Linked DNA regions of Homo sapiens: regions 1 and 3 are each linked to region 2. Evidence: fine-mapped expression QTL. A gene starts in region 2. Each other region holds a variant in brackets. All regions are shown on one strand. Distances are between the middles of the regions. Region 1 overlaps BLTP1 (bridge-like lipid transfer protein family member 1). Region 2 holds the start of BLTP1 (bridge-like lipid transfer protein family member 1). Region 3 overlaps IL21-AS1 (IL21 antisense RNA 1).

Region 1 (4,250 bases), 68 kb after region 2:
TAAAATATAACCCAGTGTTTTCTGTTATATTTGTGCATAAATTTGTCCATGCTTCAGAATTGTATTATAAAGACAGTTATTAAGATTTCAAGCAGGTTTCAAGTGGCATCTGTAATTAGGAGGTGGACAGCAATAGGGAATAGAGGAAAAAGCACTGGTTTTGTGAGCCGGTAGGTTTGGGATTTAAATATTAATCCCCCTACCAATTAACTGTATGACTTTAAGCCCTTCAACATTATTTCCTATGAAAAGATATTATGTACTGATGTCCATAACTCTAGTCAGAAGATAATTTTGTCAATAACCAAAGTGCAGAATTTACCAAAATACTGTCTTGGTTCTAATATTTAACAGATATGCTGACAATGTTAACAGGAATATTTAACAACTTTTATTTACTACTGAGAGATCAAATGGCCAAAATTTAAATATAGAATCAATGGGAAAAAATAAATTAAATTGAAGCTAAATTTATATTTTCATGCAAAAGAAAACAGTAGTTGAAACACTTCTGCATAAAAAACCAGGATGAACTATGTGAAAGGAATTTTTGTTAATTGTTGGTAACACATGCCTTTATCTCATCAATAACCAAGATTGGATATTTTTATTAAAGCTGTTAAAACATGCCCAATAAATATTCCAACAGGAATATGTGAATTGTACTAGTTACCTAATTGAATTTAGCCAGACTGATTTTCAGTGAATTGCTTCCCCCAAAGGATGTCCTCGGTATTGCCTGAGAACTCTGAGGAGCAGTGATTGAAAACTGTTTAACCATGCAAACCTTCAGAGGTCTCTGAGGACCTAAATTACAAGGTTTTGCTGTAATTGGGGCAATGCCATGAAGTTTTTCTATAAAATAGGCTCTGTAACTTTTTGCATTTTTTGCTACTGAATATTTGCCAAGCAGCTATGTGTAAGTCTTAACATATGTTTTCTTTTGTATTTTAAGACAATAGGCCTGATGCCTTTTTATTAAATATAATAGGTTAAGGAAATGCATAATTTACAAATTTAGGCTCATAGGTGAAAATATATTTACATACCTCTTTTGACAGCAATTTGTGTTTTCTTAATATTTATAGGAAAACTACTTTGGGGAAGATGACATGTATATGGATTTTGAAGAGGTTATCTCAAGTCCTGTTTTGTCACTGTCAACATCATCCAGCTCTGGGTGGACTGCTGTTGGAATGGAAAATGACAAAAAGGAAAATGAAGGTTCAGCCAAGTCAATTCATCCACTTGCCTTGCGTCCTTGGGATATTACTGTACTTGTTAATTTGTACAAAGTTCATGGGCGTCTTCCTGTTGTAAGTGTTTACACATGAAAGTAGTCTGGAATATATTATAACATCCACCTGTGTATAGATGTGAAGCATTCAGCACACACTTAGAAAAAGAAAATCAGATTTAGAAACTTCTAAATTTATTCTTTTACTGTTATAAAACTCATGTATTTTCTTCATAATATGATTACTTGATCATTGGTAATTTTTATTTTCTATTTTTCTTCTAATTTAACTTTAGCTCCTTCTTTGCTATATGTGTAATGTCAGGACATCGTGTCATACATTGAGTTGTTGGGTTTATAATTAACCTGATGGGTGTTCAAGGACTTTACATTTTCTTAGCTTTTATCTCTAGACCCCAGACCAGT[T/C]TGGGGCCTTATGGTGGACCTGTTATAAAATGGAGTTTCTGGCTTGACCCTGGGGGTTGAATTATGTAGTTTGGATCTAGCACGGTATCCTGGGTCGCTCTAAGGACAACCTGTGGACCTGTTCTGGCTGACATGGAATGATATTAAATTGCCCCAAGAACCCAGGGACTTTGGTGCAGGGCCAGATGAGGTGTGTGTCCGGGTTGCAGTGGGGTGGTGGGGCCGGTGGCCCTCTGTTGCTTAGTGCAGCTAACGATCCTACTGAGGTACAGAATAGTTATTTTTCTCAGTAATCATAGTTTCTCTGTTTTTGAAAAACAAATTCTCTTAATCATGACAGATGTAATTTTTATTTTCCTATACTTCCTTACTTTTTGCCTTTTCTGCATTTCAACTGTGCTATTTCATTTGACTGTAGCATGGAACTACTGATGGTCCTGAATGCCCTACAGCTTTCTTGGAAAGACTATGTTTTGAAATGAAAAAAGGATTTAGGGAGACCATGCTGCAACTTATCCTGTCACCCCTGAATGTGTTTGTCAGTGATAACTATCAGGTAAGGTGAAAATGAAATATGGTGGAGACATAGAGATTTATTATTAATATTTATTGGGTTAAAACAATGTATTAGCTTCTGTGCATGGACTTTGTAGCTCTTTAAGTTGGAGACTTTTAAGTTAACTGTATTAAGAAGTTTTGTATGTATGTTTATGTGTATGAGAGTTGTTTCAAGAATCTCAATTTTCTTTTGCTGCTCCCTATTTCTGTGATCCCAATTATATTTTATACCTTTTGCTATTATAATAGAAATGGAAATAAGTACTTTCTCAAATATTTATGGAAGGGAAAAATTAACTATATAAAATGTTGGTAGGTTCTGTTGAGTATCACAGCATAAATGTTAATATTAACCAGTACCATAATATTTTAAAACGTGTGTATCTACATGATCAATGATTTATTCTTATTCATCTAACATAAGATACTTTGTTAATTCCTTCAAGATACCTCTGGGCTCTTTTAAAAGAGAACCAATGATATTCATCAAGTGAGAATTTGAAAATGTATTACATTTCTGGGTAGATTATAATTTTATTATTTTTTTCATGCCAAATGGCTTTCTGTGGCAACTACCACCACTTTATATGCCCCTGTCTTACTTTTAATCAAGTTGTGTGATTTAGAAATATAAATGGAACTTAATACAAGACAAAGTAAAATTATAAATGGGAAGGTGAATCTGACAACCAGAAATCATCAATGAATGATCATTTATTATGATTATATGTAGTAATTGATCATTTTATTTAAAATAGCATATCTCCTTTTCATTCTTTTGCCATCACTGACTATATTTTTCTTCATGGAATTTTAATTTAATTTTTCATACATATATTTGACATATATGAGATCATATTAGCTAAAACTTAATATGTGCTAGGCATTGTTTTTGTTTTGCCACAGAATGTGTGTTTCTGGTTTTAAACTTTTATTTTGAAATAATTATAGTTTCACAGGAAGTTGCAAAGATCAGAGCGATCCTGTGTGTACTCTTTACCCAGTTTTTTTCCATGGTTAAGTTATTTTACATAATTATAGTATCAAAACAAGGAAACTGACGTTGATACAATGTGTGTGCGTAGTTCTAGGTCTTCTTATCATGTGTAGATTCATGTAACCACCAAAATGAAGATACAGAACTATTCTGTCATCACAAAGATCTCACATAACACATTATTTTAACTTGCCATATTAACCTTAAAAAAAAAAACCTCTTGTCCTCTCTATAATTAGCAGGTCATTAGAATCGGTTGTTTTTTATTCTGGGAGGCAGGTATGTGGAGAGGAAGCCCATCTCCCTTTTTCAGTCTATTAAGGAAATTAATAAAGGGAAAAGGGAAAGTCTTCTATGGATGAGTTCTGAGAAACTTAGATGACTATCCCTGGTTTTTTATGAGTACCTGGTAGCCCTTCAACTTTTAATCACTGCACTTTTAAAAGGCTTTTCCAGACATAGAAAACATTTTATTGAGCTGATTATGAATGTTCACATTAATTCTTATTATAGAGGTATGCAAACTTGTGGAGAGACTGAATTATAAAGTATGACTTATTTGGGGATTAGAGAAGGAGTTCATGGAGTAGAGATACCAAGGTGAAAGTAGAAGTACTAGTGATAATTCATTTCCCCGATTGTTGACAACTTACCCCGAAGACAAAGGTACCATATATATCCTCTTGGAATTTGCTTGTCTACTTACCTTGTTTACATTCTATAGTGTTGACACGACTATTCCTAAGAATTTTTTTCTTCATCTGTCGTTATACTATCTAATGTTCTTTCACAGTGAGAGGGTTCACACTGTGTCTACTCCCAAGGCTCAAATCTGGGTTACCCACTTGTAGTTTATCCTGGGTAGCATCAGTCTCTTAACTCAAGGCTTCAAGATGAAGGTTCTAAGGTGACTGATGGACTACTGTGTCCCATTATGACACTATGCACTTTTTACTTTGTGGTCATCTTATGTATTAATTTCATAGGGATGCCGTAACAAAGTATCCTATGCTAGGTGACATAAAAGAACAG
Region 2 (4,250 bases):
ACTCATGGACAAACAGAAGGGAAAAACACACACTGGTGGCTATGGGAGGGTGAAGGTGGATGAGGGAGAGGATCAAGAAAACTAACTGAGTACTAGGCTTAATACCTGGGTGATGAAATGTTCTGTACAACAAACCCCCATGACACCACAAGTTTACCTATGTGACAAACCTGCACATGCACCCTTGAACTTAAAATAGAAGTTTAAAAAACAATGCTTTTTAGTGGCCAAAATTTCCTGTGTTGTTTTCCTTTTTAAAAAATCACTAGACCACACAAACAAACCTGTACACTATTGTTTATAGTAGCTTTATTTGTAATAGCCTCAAACTGAAAACAACAAAATGTTCCTCAATGGGTGAATGATTAGACTGTGGAACATCCATATATTGGAATACTGCTCAGCAATCAAAAGATCACACTATTGATATAGATGACAATTTGGATACAGTTCAAGTGAATTATGTAGAGTGAAAAAAGCCTGTTCCTAAAGGTTACACACTGTACACTTTCATTTATATAACATCCTCAAAATGATAAAATTACAAAGATGGAAGACAGATTACTGGTTGCCAAGAGTTAGGGTTGTTATATGGGGAGGAGGGGTGGGTGCATCTATAAAGGGGTAGTAAAAGGGAGATCTTTGTGGTGATAAAAGAGGTCTGTATTGTTTGTAGTGATAGTCACATGGAATTACACACGATAAAATGACATAGAGCTACATACAGACATTGTACTAATGTCAGATTCCTGGTTTTCTTACTGTACTATAATTATACAAGATGTAACTATGGGGGAAACTGGGTGAAGAGTACATGAGACCACTCTGAACTATCTTTGCAACTTCCTGTGAATTTATAATTATTTCAAATAAAAAGTAAGATATAAAAAATCACTTGAAGGCTTTCATCATTAGAGAAATTCTTCTTGGATTCAATGGAGACAGTTTCTTTGGCATCCTTACTTTAACGGCATGCTAGAGAAAAATGAAAAATAGGTGGGAGACTGGAGAAGGCAGTAAGCCTTGCCATGCAAATTTAGTGAGCCATATGAAATGTCAAAGAGCATAATTATTTTCACAAGACTAAAGGCCTTTAGAATAGAGGCTTCTAAAATAAATAATTCATTTATACAATGTCGCCTAATGCATAGCTGTAGTTACAGGGTGACTCTTGATCACAGGGATGGAAAGGAAGTAGAGGCAGAAACTTCCAGATTCCCACAGTCCCCTCACACGGTTACAGAAAGGCCATAGTGAACTTCCTTCTCTCCTCTCCCCTCTGCTACAGTGCAACTTAGTTTCAGTTTAGTTTTTGATTTGGGGAACTTGAACCATCTCTAGGTAATTTCTAGTCCAGAGAACTTGTACTTGCACAATGTCCTTCTTGGGCAAAATCCGAAGTTTGGCTGTAGCAAATTTGAATCCTTGTGGTGGTTCCCTTATTACAAAACAAAGATTGACTAGAAATCTTCCAGATGTTGAAAAAGACAACTGAAATTAATTTCTTTGTAGAGGGGCAGAAATAAACTCTAAAGAGTTAATTGACATAAGGCCAGTACCAGTGTCCAGGTAGCAGAAGGAAGTAACTAAGACAGTGCATGCTTTTCTCCTTTTGGTTTTCATCCAGTCCTTCCATAAACCACTTCTGTCTGGGCCTCTATTTCCTTATATGCAATAACAGTTAATTGTTGTACCTCGTGTGTTTTCTGGCATTATCTTAAATTTGGTTTCATATCTGTTCCTTTTGAGGTGAGAGTGGAACAGCCATGTGGAAATATTAAGGTTGTAGTAAGTACCTCAGCTCCGGAAAGAAGTCAGAACTAGAGATTTAGACATTTGGAACTTCAGAGGCAGTATACAGTAATACTTTGGAGCCACATTTCTTGGGTCCAAACCCTGGTTCTCTAGCAAGTTATTTAACCTCTCAGTGTCTTAGTTTTTCAATTTGTGAAATGGAGATAAACGGGGATGAGAATAGCCTCACAGGATTTTGGAAGGATTAGTCAATAAGCCCTGCTAAACACTGTTTACTATTGCTAGTATATAGCGCAGACAAATAAATATCTGCGACATTCCTCTAATTCCAAGAAGTCGTTTGCCTTGGTTCACCCGCTAAATAATATTAAGAGCCTTTCTCTTTAAAAAGAGGAGCAGCAAATTACTTTTCATTAATATCATCAGCATAATAATAGACTTAGTTGAGAGATTCAGCGTGGCAGCACTTCACACAATCGAGCTCTCTTATTGATCATGTCATAACAGCATCTCTATTTCTTAAGGACTCATTTCACGTCATACACCCATCCGATGCTCCTTTTTCGTTAGCCTCCGTCTCCTAAGTGGGCTTATCTGTCTCCTGCTATCAGGAAGGCACTAACTTTTCCTTTGGGTTGTTAGGGTAGCAAAGTGATTTTCAAATTCAGGGTTCTGGCTCCTTCTGCAGCCCAGAGAGGAGGAAACAGGGCGGGACGCCGCCGGATTCCTGGGCAGGGCTTGAGTGGCGCACCTCGAGGCGCCGGCGACGCTGGCGTGTGACGTTGCTGCCTGACGCAGGCGCAGTGCCGCCCGGCCTCGGTTGGGACCCCTCCCCTCCTCCTCCGCCCCCTTGGGTGTCGGTGGCTGCGGCCAGGGTCTGGACCTGGGCGGCGGCCCCGGGCGGCGGGGCTAAAGGGTGTGGGCACCGGCAGAGCTTCGCAGGCTGCATCCGGCTCGGTGCTGCTGCCGTCGCCGCCCCTGCCGCCGCCCAAGGCCCTCGGCGTTCCCCGGAGAGAGGCCAGAGGGATTTCGGGCTGCCTCGGCACTCGCCCAGGTGAGGGGATGGGCCGGGCCAGACGGGGTTGAGGTCGTCAGCCCCTTTTTCCAGTGTCTCTGGAACTCAACCTGGTCGGAGTCTGAGAGCTTTGGCTTAGTAGTGGCTGCCTGCGGCGGCGACTCCTTCATATTCCTTTGCCATCCTTACCTACAGCCCTGGCACCTATAAACCGAGGGTTGGAGGTCAGTGGCAAAGTCTGGAAGGGCCATGGCAGTCGGATGGCTGGGGACTTTGATACAGGAGCAGTTCCTGCGGGTGATGGTAAGGCGCTCCACTTGCTGGTGTGTGGACTCGGCAGGAAGGACCGTGCACCCGCAGGCTCGGACTGCAGCCTTGCCAGCTGCACTGGGTTGTAGTAGACCCCATGCTGCTTAATATAGGGTCGGTTGACCGAGGGCGGGGAAGCCTTGGAACAACCCCCGCTTTCTTCTCTGGGATTGATGTGTTTTGTATTCTGAATTGGTGCTTGCTGCACTGCACTCTAGAAGACTACGTTTCAGCAGAATTTCCTATTGGTCAAAGGAAGGTGAAGAGAAGTTGATTTTTCTTCCGGAGAGTATTAGTTGTTGTCGTTTTTTTTTTTTTTTTTTTTACCTTCCTGTTGGCCTTAGTGTTGACGTTTGTTAAAGGTAAAAGTTCATGTGAATTTCCTTTTTAAGGAAATCATGGGCTTTATAACTGTCTAAGCGCCTGTAAGTTTCAACCGGTTTAGTGGTTTCTGCTTTCACCCTGTGCATAGCAATGAAGTTGTTTTATTCCAAGTTAAATATACAAAGTATAAAAATAGATGAATAACCAGAATACTTTGTAACTATTGAGTGGTACATATAATTATGTGCATATATTATCACATTTAATCATCAAAACAATCCTATAATGTAAAGTCTACTATTCCCATTTTCTAGATGAAAGAACAGAATAGACCTACAAAGTAACATGTTCAAAGTCAGAGCTGTGACTGAAACCAGGTAATCTGACTCGTTTGCAGTCCCTTAGTCAGTATGCCATACCAACTCCCAAGCACCCTGTGATTTTGCAAGATTTTCATTTGATAAAAAGTATGCCAGGAAGGACATTATGGCACTGTTCTTGCCGGCAAGGACCCAACAGTTTGAGAGAAACTTTCTCAATGTGCATTTTGAGTTATGTTTTAAACATAGGATTTGATCTCTAGGACCTTTGATTACCAAACTCATGCTCTTAAGTACAGTGGTTTTGGAGTCTTTGGAAGGCTTCAGTTTGGAAGTTGTAGTTTTATTTTATACTTAGGAGTATTTGTTGTTTGGAAACTTTAAACAAGGAAACGTAATATTGGACTAAAAGAGTTTCGTCCTGTTTGTGCATGATTAAGTAACGAAATCATATAATCAGAAATGGTTATGCTGCTCGTAAAGCCAGAATACCTTGTATAATTAGTTAAAATGCCATACTTTTCAGG
Region 3 (4,250 bases), 490 kb after region 2:
TGTCTTATGGAAACAGTACGTATTTTTTTTTTAAGTGTGCACAAATTAGATAAATGTGCACAGGAAATCAGTTATTTCTCGTGGATGAGTTGGTGCCATGGATTTGGGTTCTGGCTGTGAATTTGTGTGTCCCATGTGCTTTGGTCCCTATGTGTCTGTGTATAACGAGGGCATCTTTGCTCATTTAAAATTCACTCATTCAACAAGTATTTACTGAGCACCAACTAGTCACACTTCTCATAATTTTGTGTGTGTGTGAAAAATTGGGACACTCTTTAGCTGTGTTTTATTGGGCACAATTTGCAAGTGTTTTAGCAGGGACTTCCGAGCACATCTGGTGCTTTTGTGGAAATGCAAAAAACAAAACAACTCCTTTTCTGTGCAAAAAAATTATCTTCAAAAGTACCTCTTCCTCTGCGAGGAGGAAGATGTATGCTAGGACACAGGGCTTGGTGAGGGGGGTGCACTGTAGATTTCAGACCCTACCCAACCCTCACCTGGGCACCATTTTGCAGTACACAAAAGGCATACCTGTATGTACAAACTGGTCTTAGATGAAGCCTCACAAAAATCAGTGTGAATTTTGTTCAGCTTTTGGTGGTTTGGACCTAGAGGGGAGAATTCCTTTAAACCTTGTTAGTCAAAGAATCTCTACACCAAACACTTCTGGCTCTCAGTTGTCCATCTGCCAAATGAGGGAATTATACTAAATTCCTTTTTCTCTTTTTCTGAAAAAATAAGTATTTGGTTACAATAGTAGAAAGGTCGAGAGCATGACTCCAAAGAGTCAGACTGCCTGAATTTGATCCTGGCTCTATGACTTAAGCACAATTTGACCTTGAAGAAGCTGTCTGAGCCTCAGTTTCATTATTTGTAAAATGGAGCTAATGATATTACCTAATACCCAGTTCATAGAGTTATTATGAGAAATGAGAGAATGCATGTAAAGCATGTAGTATGACTGGAAGTGAGTGCTTAATAATCGTTAGCTATCATCACCATCATTATTATGTAGTCAGTGTGATTCTGTATCTCCAGAAAACCAGGGGCGGCCAAGCCCCATCTTCTACCTAAGAGTTCTAGCATCACTCATGTCACCACCCCACAGTCTGTCTGCATTTGCCACTCACCCAATTACAACACCCTCCAATCATTTGTCTATAGTAAATAAGAGCATTCATTTTGTAAGCCTTGACAAGGCTACTTCCTCTTTCTCCTAACACTACTGTAATACCCTGCAGATGTTTGCTGCCTTTCTAGGAGAAAGTCCAGTGGCAGACAGTTTTGCCTGAAACAAATGATTGTTATTTATACTAAGACTACAGCATGCTCCCCGAAATGGCCTCTAGAGATTCTTAAAAAATATTCCCTCAAGCAAAGAAAATCCTAATGCACCTAAGAAGACAGTGTATCAGCTAGCTACAGTTGCGTAACCAACAACACCAAAACTTTAGTGGTTAAAAACAACCAACATTTATTATTTCTTATGAGCCTGTGGATTGGCTTCATAGCTCAGCTCATCTGGGGTAGGCTTAACTGATCTTGGCTGGGCTTGCTCATTTATCTGGGATTAAAGGCAGATTGGCCTTGGCTGAGACAACTCAGTTCTTCTCAACATGGCTCTCACATCCCTCCAGCAGGCTAGCCTGGTCATACTCTGATGGGGGTCCAAGAAAGAAAGTGGAAACAAGCAAATCCCTTTCCAAGCCTTTGCTGGTGTCTCATTAGCCAAAGCAAACCACATGGCCAAACCCAGAGTCAGCACGGAGGGCTAGCACCAAAGGGTAAGGATAGAGGGAGGCATGAATATTGGGGCCATTATTGCAGTCCAG[C/CT]ACACATGATGATGATTATGTCATTTTTAAAAAATAATTTCAACTTTTAGTTTAAATTCAGGGGATACATGTGCAGGTTTTTTACGTATGCATATTGCATGACACTGTGTTTTGGGGTAAGAATGATCACTACCTAGGTAGTGAGCATAATACCCAATAGGTAGGTTTTCAGCCTTTGCTCTCTTCCCTCTCTAGCAGTCTCCAGTGTTTCCCATGTTTATGTCCATATGTACCCAATGTTTAGCTCCCACTTGTAATCATAAGAGAAATGCAAATAAAAACCACAGTGAGATACTATCTCACACCAGTCAAATGGCTAATAATAAAAAGTCCAAAAATAATAGATGTTGGCGAGGCTATGGATAGAAGGGAATGTAAATTAGTTCAGCCACTGTGGGAAACAGTTTGGATATTTCTCAGATAACTAAAAACAGAACTACCATTTGACCCAGCAATCTCATGCTTGTTATATACCCAAAGGAATATGGATTGTTCTACCATAAGACACATGTACATGTATGTTCATTGCAGCACTATTCAAAATAGCAAAGACATGGAATCAACCTAGGTGCCCATATTCAGTGGATTGGATAAAGAAAATGTGGTACATATACACCATGTAATACTACACAGTAAATATTAAAGATTTCTAGCTTATAATTTCATCTAGTAGTTTCATTGTTTCAAAATTTAGACACTATTATGGTTTGTAAATATAGATATATACTCGAATGTCTTGTTTTAGTCATAGAAGATGTAACTGAAAAGCAGTACAAAACCCAGGAACAGGTGTTAGTTTCTAATTAAATGATAAAATAATGTCTGAAGAGTTCTGTTTTATTTTTGACTTTTCTGCACACCTCAGTTGAGGTGATCTCACGAAGATGTTAATTGCCAACTGCCAGAGCAGCTAAACAACCTCTCTGTGCCCCATACAGTGCTTTATGGAAGTTTCAGTCTGGGAGAGCCACAGGTTGCCCCAAAAGAGCCTATGGGCTCTGTGAATGCTTTAGACGCAGAACAGAAAGCAGGCAAACAAGCAGGCATTTAAGGAATGTTAAAGATAAAGTGAAATATTGATCAAATTCTCTTCATGATCTTTTAATTTGTACTTTTGGAAATCCACGAGCAAAGTTCTTCTAAGGCTGATAAAAATGTGAATTTCTCTCTACTGGTATAAGAATGAATCAAGCAATGAATTATGCAGTTAAATCACCTGGTAGAGAATGCCACTTAAGACAGTGTGGAAGATGAGCTCCCGTTTACACACAATTGGCTGCAACATCCAACTAAGAAGGGGCAGGGGCAGAGGGCACCAATCAAAGAGCTGGCTCCAGCTGGTTTGCAAACCCACGGTTATTATGACCCACAAGTCTTCCAAGGTGGTTGTCTATTGGAATTCTCATTGGACTTTAGCTGTAGGAGCTGCAAAAATATTCTCAAGATTAGTAAATATACCCTCTAATTACATCTCCACCCTCTGCCACAGCAACACAATTGCTCACACCCTTAAATAAACCTCCACTTGTTTATTTGAAGACACCATGTGGTCTGTTCTCTAAATATTTCACCAAATGGGCTCAACATTCTTTTATAGGACCTAGTTTCCAATAATGCTATCATTTTTTCCCTAGTTTTTCTCTAGACATCACACTTTGCTACATCTGCTCTTAAATGTGGTGACAGTGCTGTCCCAGGTGTGGTAAGTTGGGATAGTTCCCAGGCCCCACATTTTGTGTGCCCCCTCCCCCCGCCGCCACTTCCTCCTCTCCCCACAATATAATGACAGGTGACTAGGAAATGACTCAAGAGGTGGAGTGTGGAGGAACAAGAGGAGGCTTTCAGCACAAGTGTGGAAAAAAAACTTGAGGGTTTCATATATGTGTATTCAGTTAATAAACTCCTCCTTCCTCACCAAAGACAAAGATAGTAGAAGAGTCCTTTCCTCGTTCCACAGACTTTCAGAATGGACATGTCTAATTAAGATTCCTGTCTCCTTCTAAGTTTATCCTTAATAATCACTGAAACAAGAGATTGCTTATAAACTGAAAGCACCAAATGATGTGATTTGCCCACACCTGTCTCACTGCACCAACTACAATGACCCCAGGTGATAGCCAATATCTGTTATGACTCTCTTAATTGCAAAACAAGCAAATACACAAAAAACTTCAGCTTTTCTAAGTCACTTTTCTAACAATGCAGCCTGACACATGTTTCTCTTTTGATCAGTGCTCCAGTGCCCACTATATTCAGGTTTGGTCTACTCCAACTCTCAGGTCTTTTTTTCCTTGTTTCTTTTTTCCTTATTTCTTTCCTTCACTACTGAAATCCGAGTACTTTCTCACAAAAGTAGCTGAAGTGGGTTGGTTGTGTGCATGTTGAGGAAGGATATCCCTACAGGTCCAGCTTTACATG

The links. PIP is the estimated chance that this variant, and not a neighbour inherited with it, causes the effect.
Region 1: its variant is the best candidate, but not a certain one, in a credible set for the expression of BLTP1 in nasal epithelium (TOPMed, PIP 0.61).
Region 3: its variant is the best candidate, but not a certain one, in a credible set for the expression of BLTP1 in monocytes (TOPMed, PIP 0.79).

Annotation. Positions count from the first base shown.
Region 1 is chr4:122,218,252-122,222,501 of GRCh38, forward strand. BLTP1 (bridge-like lipid transfer protein family member 1) reads left to right here. Exons shown (of 88, transcript NM_001384125.1): 21 at 1,089-1,316; 22 at 2,082-2,219. Among named protein-coding and RNA genes, the nearest start is that of BLTP1, 68 kb to the left of the region's middle. The variant T/C (reference allele first, on the strand shown) is at 1,664.
Region 2 is chr4:122,149,776-122,154,025 of GRCh38, forward strand. It overlaps BLTP1 (bridge-like lipid transfer protein family member 1), which reads left to right and starts at 2,556. Exons shown (of 88, transcript NM_001384125.1): 1 at 2,556-2,809; 2 at 4,250. RefSeq lists an enhancer at 1,847-2,648 and silencers at 2,471-2,660, 2,731-2,810.
Region 3 is chr4:122,635,747-122,639,996 of GRCh38, forward strand. All of the region lies in intron 7 of IL21-AS1 (IL21 antisense RNA 1), which reads left to right. Among named protein-coding and RNA genes, the nearest start is that of IL21, 17 kb to the left of the region's middle. The variant C/CT (reference allele first, on the strand shown) is at 1,833.